Linked DNA regions of Homo sapiens: region 2 is linked to region 1. The links come from fine-mapping of genetic effects on gene expression. Tissue or cell type: left ventricle. Region 1 holds a variant in brackets; the other region holds the start of a gene. All regions are shown on one strand. Distances are between the middles of the regions.

Region 1 (4,239 bases):
AGGTCAGGACTGGATTCCTATGTGTTCGAGGGCGGTGGGGGGAACCCATAAAACAACAGTGCATGCACACAGGAAACTGCTCATTTACATTCAGAGAAATAAACAATGACAAGGATGGAATGGTTAGATTTTGCAGACATGAAGTCACAGACAGCCCCGTGACCAATTGCATTTAAGAAATCAGTTTGAAAAAAAAAATGAATTTGATGGGAGCTCAAACCACATAAAATTAATAGTTATTGAAGCAGAAACTAAGTAATCAGAGGCTGTCTCATGCAAATACACTGAAGTTTCCCTGAACTGCATCTCTATAACTAAGCCCGATGGGCCAAACCACACCCTGAACTTGAGGATGAAAGCCAGGCCCTCTATCACACGGTCAGACAAGCCCCTATCTCACCTGAAAGGATCTACACGTAGCCCAGGGAAGAGGCAGTTTTTAGCTAAATGTCCCAACAAAATATTCTTCTGTCTGACCATTAAGGCTCTGAGAACACAGGACTTGCTCAGGAATGCGGGACTCTCTCCCACTGCATTTAATCCTGACACACTGGGCCTGCACAGTGGGCCAGGCAGGCTCCAGTGTGCAGGTTGGGGAGGGGAGGTAGAATTTGTTCTTGTACTAAAAGGCATTTTTAAAAGCCACATTTTTTCTCAAAAGCCATTGAGATCTGAAAGTCCTAGAAGTTCAGCTTTGCCAATAGCAATCTTCTCTGATTTCTGAATGCAATGTCTCAATCACTTCATTCACTTGAGCTTTAATTAACAATAATCCACCAAATCCCACTTCAGCATTATGGTGAAAAAACCTTAGCAGGACATATTTACCAAAATAGAGGCCCTCATAATAGGAAGAATAATAATGCTATATGTATAAGACACTTTAACTCCTAGTTGGCGTTTGTCCCCCTCTGGAGTTCTTAGACTTCACCGTCTATACTAGATCTTAAATAGTGACATTTACCCCCTTGTACGCCATACTCCTTGTTCTGAATTTCTCCACTACTGAATGCGGTCTTACTGGCTGAACATGGGACGTTTGCCTTCTAATTTCTCATTGCTTCCTGATCCCCACTCTCCCGTCCAAAATAATGAATGAATGGATTAAAGATATTAATAACCCTAAACAAAATACAGCTGAAAACATGGAACCAGAAAAAGGAAAGTTAAAGTTTCAGAACAGTCAAAATAAAAATGATATCAAATTGCTTCTCTAAACATACGTGTGTATATCCATATTTATTTAACTTTCATCGAGTTAGATGAAACTAACTGGTTTCATGCTGGTAAAACTATTTTTGTTTGTAATCAATCAAAAATAATACAGGCATATCTGCTTTGTTTAATGCTTTTAAATTGTTGGAAAGATTGTTTCTTTGTAGGATATTGTTCTCCCAAACAAATCAAGGAGTCCTCAGTCATATAGCATATGGTATCCATTGGATAAATAGAAACTCATGGTTAAAAAAAAAAAAAGGTACATTTAAAAAGTTGTACTTAAGTATAAATTAGGCATCATTACTTTTTTTTTTTTTTTTTTCAAAATGTAGGGCTACTTTTCCTTTGTAAATTCTATAAAGCAAATCTTCCCAAGTACAGGATTTCGGGTGAATACTATTCAATATCCAGAAACTAAAGTCCCAAACGTTGCACGGGAAGCTCGTGGCAGGTAAGCCCCGTGGACACAGGACTGTGGCCGGGAAGGCCCCATCTAGAGCCGCCCGAGGTGCACTCAGAGCCGGCACACTATTCGAATTGTCTGAAACAAGCACAGCTTTGACAAGCCTC[A/G]CGATATTAAGTTTCTTCCTTTGCGAAGGATGCAGAGCAAAGCAGTCAACAGCCCTCCCTCCACACCTGGCTTTGGCCTGGGACTCTTCCTCCCAGTCCCCAGCCAAGTTCCCTTTCAGGATTAAGAAAATACACCAAATGAGGGAGCCAATGACAGCCTGTAAGGCAGGACAAATCCTCAGCTCTCATCGTGACTTCTCAAAGCAAACTTGCTCCGCGGAGGGGAGAGGGAAAATCATTTACTTTAAGGTGCTATAGAAAACTGGTCATCGGGACTGTGGGGAGTCTCCCTGAACCTGGAAGCTCCCAGGTTGAAACCAAAACTTCCAGGAGCTCCCATCATTACCTGTCCTGTGGGCACTGGGTCTTCTTGGGTAACCTTCCCCAGCTTGCCCTACACCGGAGCTGCCAGCAAATAAAAGTTTTCACGCTGGGCGACATCGCTACCCTGCTGAGCTGCATGTAAACTTTCCCTTGCCCTTCTGATGTACTTACTTTTTTCTCAGTGAAAACAAACAAAAATCAAAGGGAACTCACTGCTTCCAAATGAGTTTGTGTCACCGTCCCACCTAGCCATCCAGAGACCCTCTGACCTTCCTGTGACAGTCTAAGAAAGGCAACGTTTTCCTCTCGGCCACACAGGGATGCTTTAGAGTGCGGAAAACCAGGATGAAAGAACAGGCATGGGGAGATATTTTTATCCATTGAGAGAGAGAGAGAGAGAGAGAGAGAGAGAGAGAGAGAGAGAAAGGGGACAGAAAAGGACCCGCAGAGTCTGGGGAGGAGAAAGGGAGAAGTTGGGTTACTCACATGCTTGGGGCTGGCGTGGAGGACGAGGACTGGGCTGGGGTGGAATGTGCGGCCCCTCAGGTGCTTTCAGTTGCTGATAACTCGTTGCTCCGCTCCTCCGGTACCAGCTGACAGTCCCCTGTCTGTGTCTCTTTGTGACTAAGGACACAGTACTCCCAACCTATAAATAGATCCCGACTCCGTGATTGATATAACAGGCAGCTGACAAAAAAAAAAAAAAAAAAAAAAAAGTCTCACAACCATAACCAGGTCTTAAACAAAACAGCAAAAAGCTCTAGACTTCCAACTCCACCCAGCCCCATGCAGACTCCACAGCCACTGATGGACGCAGGAAAGTGTGGAAGAAAAATACACCATGAAGGGGAGGAGGAACTGGGGGAGGGCAAGTGAAAAGGGGGGATGTGTAAGACAATGACTTCTCTAGTGGTGTGCGGCCGTCACTTGGGGTCACAGGGGAGCTGGTGACTGATGGTCGGCAGAAAGCAAGGGGAGGAGCCAGGGCAGGAGGTCCTGACCTGGAGAAGGAGAGCCGCCCCCCTCCGGATCCTGAGCCCGTGGCCCTGTCAGGGCCCGAGTCAAAGTCCTGACTTGGGAGCATTCGTCAGCTCAAGTGCTTTCCACGAAAGTTTCCATTCCTCCTGCCAAATTAGGAGGCAGGGAGGGAATTCAGCTTTCCCAGCTCAGGGGCCAGGCAGGCTTCTTGGGGGCCATGCAGAAGGCTCCTGGAGGGTGAGAGAGGAAGTGCAGTTGCCTGGTGAGGCCAGGTCTTTGAAGAGGCCAAGAGATGGCGTTCCCAACAGAAGAACGGCCTGAAGTTGAAAGGCCCTGGGGGTGTTAATGTCTCTGCTTTCTCCAGAAAGATTTAGGACGTCAAGTCGTCTGAAAAGATTTCCTTTTTGGAGAACAAGCCCCGCTCTTTGGGGTACCGGAGGGTCTCTAAGAAGCACTGCCTGTCCCAGTTTCTACAAAGTTGGGGCCGCCTCTCTGGGATAGGCCAGTCCAGCTCTGAAAGCTGAGCCAAGGGGCTGTTTCTGGAAGTTGGAAGAATCATGGTGAAACGGCACAAGTATGGGCTGTTCAACAATTAACCAGGTGAGCATGCATTACCCCAGGGGGCTTCCCATCTGCCATCTGGAGACCCACTTGCTTTGACTACACAGGGTCACCTGTCTTGATTTTCTGGATTTCTTGTGCATGCTAAATGAGGCAGAATTTCAGGTGAGTTTCCCCTTCAAGAGGGGTCATAGGATGAACCCCTTGCTGGTATGGATAAGGGACAGGTACTTCATAATCCCTAAAACTTCCTGATCCCCAATTTTTAAAAGAAATGAAGTTGAACCTCCTCTTCATGTTAGATCTAATCCTTTACTCTCCAGGTTATCAGAAACTATGAGGATGGGGTGGTATCTAAGCTGTTGAAGTCAAAAACCTATTAAACGTGTAGGGCCTCCAATCTTTCCACCAGTAGCCTGCCATTGCAATATGAGCTCCAAGAAGGTAAAGACTATGTGTTTGTCTCATTCATCATCACATCCCCATAATACCTGATCTGTAGCAAGACCCTCCTGAGTATGGATTGATTGACTGACTAATTGAATGAAAGAGTGATACTTAAGATACTGTCATTTGAGCCACTCCTTT
Region 2 (4,239 bases), 64 kb before region 1:
GGTGCTCCATGCAGCCAGGAGAGGGGTTAGGTACTTCCTGGGACCCCACATGATCCAGAGTATTTATTTTAGAGATGTAGTCGTGGTTCTTGGGGGGAGGGGGAGAGCGAGTGGTACACAAATGAAAGCACGGTGGAACTGGAGAAACGCTGACTTGGAGAATTTAGTTTGCGTCAGAAAAAAAAGAGGAAGACGAGCACAAAGTTAAGCAGGAAAGCTGTCCGTAAGAACCTAGAGTTTTATGTATTATTATTATTAAGCCTTCCGAGGGACCACTTTGCACGCGCACACAACCTGCCTCCGGGACACCCGCCGGGGGCGCCGTGGGGTGCGCAGCGCCCAAGGGGAGACCCGGGCAGGTACCCGAGCAGGTGGAGCGGCGACCGTGGAGGGTGTCGGGAGGGAAACCGTAGGTGGATAGAGTGGGATCCCCGAGAGCCCGGACATGACACGCGGGTTGACCACCCGCTGCTTAGGCGATCAGTTCACTTTCCCACTCTGCGCTCTTGGCGCGCTGCCCCGGGGCTGGAGACCCGCGGTTTCTGAGAGTCGCTTCTCGCGGCGCCGGCTGCCGCCCGCGCCCACGCCGCTCGGATAACCCCAGGTTCTGGCACCGCGAGCGCAAAGCCGCCTCGGAGCAGGGAAATGGTGCCCTTCTGTTCCGCTGGTCACAGCCTCCCCCAAAGCCGAGAACGAACTTTGCCTACGACGCAGCGCTGGGCCCGCATCCCCCGGGCGCCCTGGATCCGCCGCGCCACGTGCGCACCCTCGGGGCGCCCCACGGAGACCGCGAGGCGAGAGCGGCACTGGCCGCCTGCAGTTTCCAAACCGCCGCGGCACGTTCGATTTTCTCTCTCTTGCCGGGATCATTTTTGGTCCCCAGGATGGAAATAATAAAACAAAGCGCCCGCGGGAAAGGCTTTCTCTGACGGGACAGGACATCCTTGCAACCACATCCCTGCACCTGTTCTGGGCTTCTGCCTCCCTTCTTGCTCCATTCCACAAAAACTCAAATATTTTCTCACCCCGGAGCAAGATCAGAGAGGAGAGAGAAAGGGAGAAAGTGCATGAGAAAGCGCCACTCTTGCCTGAAAGTGTGGATTTGTAAAAGGGGGTGCGGGAAAAAGTTAGAGGAGGGTTTATGCCCTAGAAAGAAACCCAGAAGTGTGCGGCTTTTCCCCTCCTTCGTCCCCCAAGTGCCCCCCCGAAGTCCCTTCCACTTTTACACAAGAATGTGCAGAAAAGGAACTGCGATCCCCAGGACAGAGACTGCCAGACGGGCAGAAGGACAGACAGACCGAGAAGCAGGGCACCTACTGGTTGTGGTAGCCGAGGGGGTCCGGGATGCAGAGTTCGGACACGTCCATCAGTCCCGTTTTAGCATTCCCAGTTGGTAGAGAAAGACGGCGGGGAAATCACGCGGAAGAGCGAGTGAAGGGCACGGGCAAGGTGCGAGCCCGGGCAGGGCACAGTGAGCGCGAGAACGCAGAGTGGGAGGAGGCGGCCGCGGCGGGGGAGAGGGAGGCAGAGAGCCGTGCGCGCACAGCCCAGCTCTCCACTCATCCGCACGCTCCGGAGAGAGCGGGCAGAGGGGATGCGAAGCCGTGGAGGAGGCTGGGGCACAAGAGACTTGGAGCCCACTAACCCTACTGTAGCTTTAAGGCTGGGAGACTGATGTATAGTTTGGCTCCTATTGGCTATCTCTCAGGGGCTGGACTTAAAGTGACAGAATCAAGCTGGGGTGGGGGGAGGGGGTGAGACAGAGAGACTTCATGGAATGAGACGCTCAGCGCGCGAGGTCCCCACCTCCTGAGCAGTAGGAGTACTGGGTGTTAGAGCCCTAAGGCCTGCCTTCTCGCAGTTAAAGGGGGGTGGGGGGGAATGTCCAACCGCCAGGTGGGTCTGGGGTGGGGGGAGATTTATTGCTTACATACCCCCCGGGCCACCCCTATCCCATCTTTTAACTGGCAGGTCTAGCAAACTCACCTCTCAGCCTTTCTGGAATGGATCTGTTTTCCAAATTAAAAATGAGTCACATTTCTCCACCCACGCACCAAAGAGAAGAGGCAGCCTCAAACCCTGCGCTGTGTGCGCAAAAGTGCAAAGGGTCAGGCCAGCAGGTGAGGCACAGCAAGAAGGCAGGAGAGAAACAGATTCCCTTCCCAGTTCTCATCACCTGGGCCAGTCAGTTCTGCACCACTCTCATATGGCTAGATGCAGGGTGCGCATCTATAAAACGTTCTCTCAATGTATGAAGTGATGCTCTAGTCATTGGCAGCTCTCTGAAATGTACCCAGGACACAGACATGAGCAAATAAATTCCTGTCTGCTTAGGAAAATACAATCGTGGTGAAAATGATCAACTTACCCGCCACATCCACTCCAAGGCACAAGTACACACTTTGAAATACACACCTGAATCCCCAGCTACAAACGCACCTGCATCCCCGTCCGCTGCTCCCTCAGTGAACCCGAATATTATGGGATGCCACTGTACCAAAATGAGCTGTAAGTCATGCCCCAGCCCTGCTTCTGGGTTTTTCATCTTTTGAGATGCACCAGCCACAGGGATAATAATCAATTTGATGATTCAAATGAGTGTGGGGAGGGGGGTAGGTATAGAATTATTTAAAAGGGGGGAAAAGCCCTCAGGAGACACCACCACCTTATTCTCCTATATTCTGCAGAAGACAATGAGCAGTAGGGGGGAAGACATAATTTTATCATCAAAATAATGTCTAAATGGAGTGTAACTGCAGGCAATGTTCAAGCACTTCAGGAATAAAGGCAGGGAGGGTTGTGAGAAACCCCAGGAGGGGCCAGCCGCCTGGGCAGGGGCTGGGAGAGTGGGCAGAAGGATCGCAGATGATTTTTGACTTGGATAAATGTGCTCGTGCAGGTTGGGAAACAGAGCTGAGATTTTTCATATGTGCTGAAGTGGAGGAACAAGTGGGATTCTCTGGGCGCAAGGCTCAGGAAGGCATCTCACAGAGAGATGGATGAAGATGTCTCCTCTGTCAGTAGCCCCCCAGCAGCCCCCGATTTTTAAAAATCACATAGGTACTTCATCAGAGACAGAAAGAGGGGTGCAGGGATGCTTCCCTTGAGCCTGGCTTCTATATGACCATCATCTCTCACCAGGACCTCAGTGACTGGTTTTTCGGCATCCTTTCTGCCCTGCTGAAATCCATTCTCCAGGCACACAGCAGCCAGGGAGCGATTTGTAAAATGCACATCCAATGTCCCGTTGTTGCAATTAGGAAAAAGGCCCCAGTCCTTGGCCTCCAAGGAAGGCATCCTATGACAGCTTCCTGCAGGTCCCTCTGTTCCTCTCCACAGCCCCTGCTGCTTTCCCTCTGGGCCCCAGTCTTTACATCTGCCACCTAGAAGGCCCCACCTTCCATATAGTGCCAGAATCTTCTGTGGTTCCTTTGCTTTGGGTAGTTTATCACAGTTTGCAATTGTCTGTGTACTGGCATGAGTGATAATTCCCTCCTCCACCCTTCCCTCACTAGACTGTAAGCTCCATGGGAGTAGGGACCATGTCTCTTTTTGTTCACCAGAGAATCTCTAGCATCTAAAGTTGCCTGATACATAACAGTTGCTTGATGAAGATTTTGCTGAATGAATGGTTAACCTGTAGGAGTTTGGAGTGGGGTGCCACAGCCTGCTGAGTGACAGGCCGCTGCCCAGGAAGAAGGTGAGGCAGTGATGGGTTGTCTGGGGCCCCTTGACTCCTTACTCTGTGTGGGTGCACCGTTTTTAACTGGAAACAAGACACACTTGGTAGAAATAAGGTCCTCTTCATGGTCTGAAAAGAAAGACCACATCACAGCCCAGAGCAATGGATTCAAAGCCACTGGGAGCAAATGAGGAGAAAGTGGGGTCTGCATTGGTTAGAACACTAGGCTAATGCTTGCCTACTATTATTCTCTGCCTCTAAGGTTCAGGCATGAAGGTGAACCAGAGCCTTATCTCTGGGCACTAGCTGATTGTCCTCCAGGCAGGAATGAACTCCTAGAGACCTAGGCCTTCTCAGCCTTCCTCTGCCTGAGCCTCCTCTCACACAGCCCTGGGGCCAAGTTCTTTCTCATTTCCTTTCTGACTCTGCAAGAGGAGAGATGAGGGCCAGCCGCCGGGACACCCTAGTGGCATGATCCAACTTGGCAGGCCCAGGCTCCTCCTGTGATTCTCCAGACAAACTTGCCTAGGTCCCACACTGTGCATGGGGCCCACATT

Alleles and levels. Positions count from the first base shown, and alleles are read on the strand shown. Sizes are in standard deviations (SD) of each study's normalised expression.
In carriers of allele A in region 1, the expression in left ventricle of the gene that starts at base 1,632 in region 2 tends to be higher than with G alone (small effect, 0.27 SD a copy in GTEx).

What was found. PIP is the estimated chance that this variant, and not a neighbour inherited with it, causes the effect.
Region 2: ESRRB starts here. The variant in region 1 is fine-mapped to the expression of ESRRB in left ventricle (GTEx, PIP above 0.99). The same link has a PIP of 0.9 or more in atrial appendage.

What each region holds. Positions count from the first base shown.
Region 1 is chr14:76,309,276-76,313,514 of GRCh38, reverse strand. LOC105370575 (a long non-coding RNA gene) reads left to right here and starts at 3,096. Exons shown (of 4, transcript XR_001750833.3): 1 at 3,096-3,690. It also overlaps a transcript of ESRRB not described here. RefSeq lists an enhancer at 3,080-3,693. The variant A/G (reference allele first, on the strand shown) is at 1,789.
Region 2 is chr14:76,373,530-76,377,768 of GRCh38, reverse strand. It overlaps ESRRB (estrogen related receptor beta), which reads right to left and starts at 1,632. Exons shown (of 7, transcript NM_001379180.1): 1 at 1,318-1,632. The coding sequence starts at 1,367.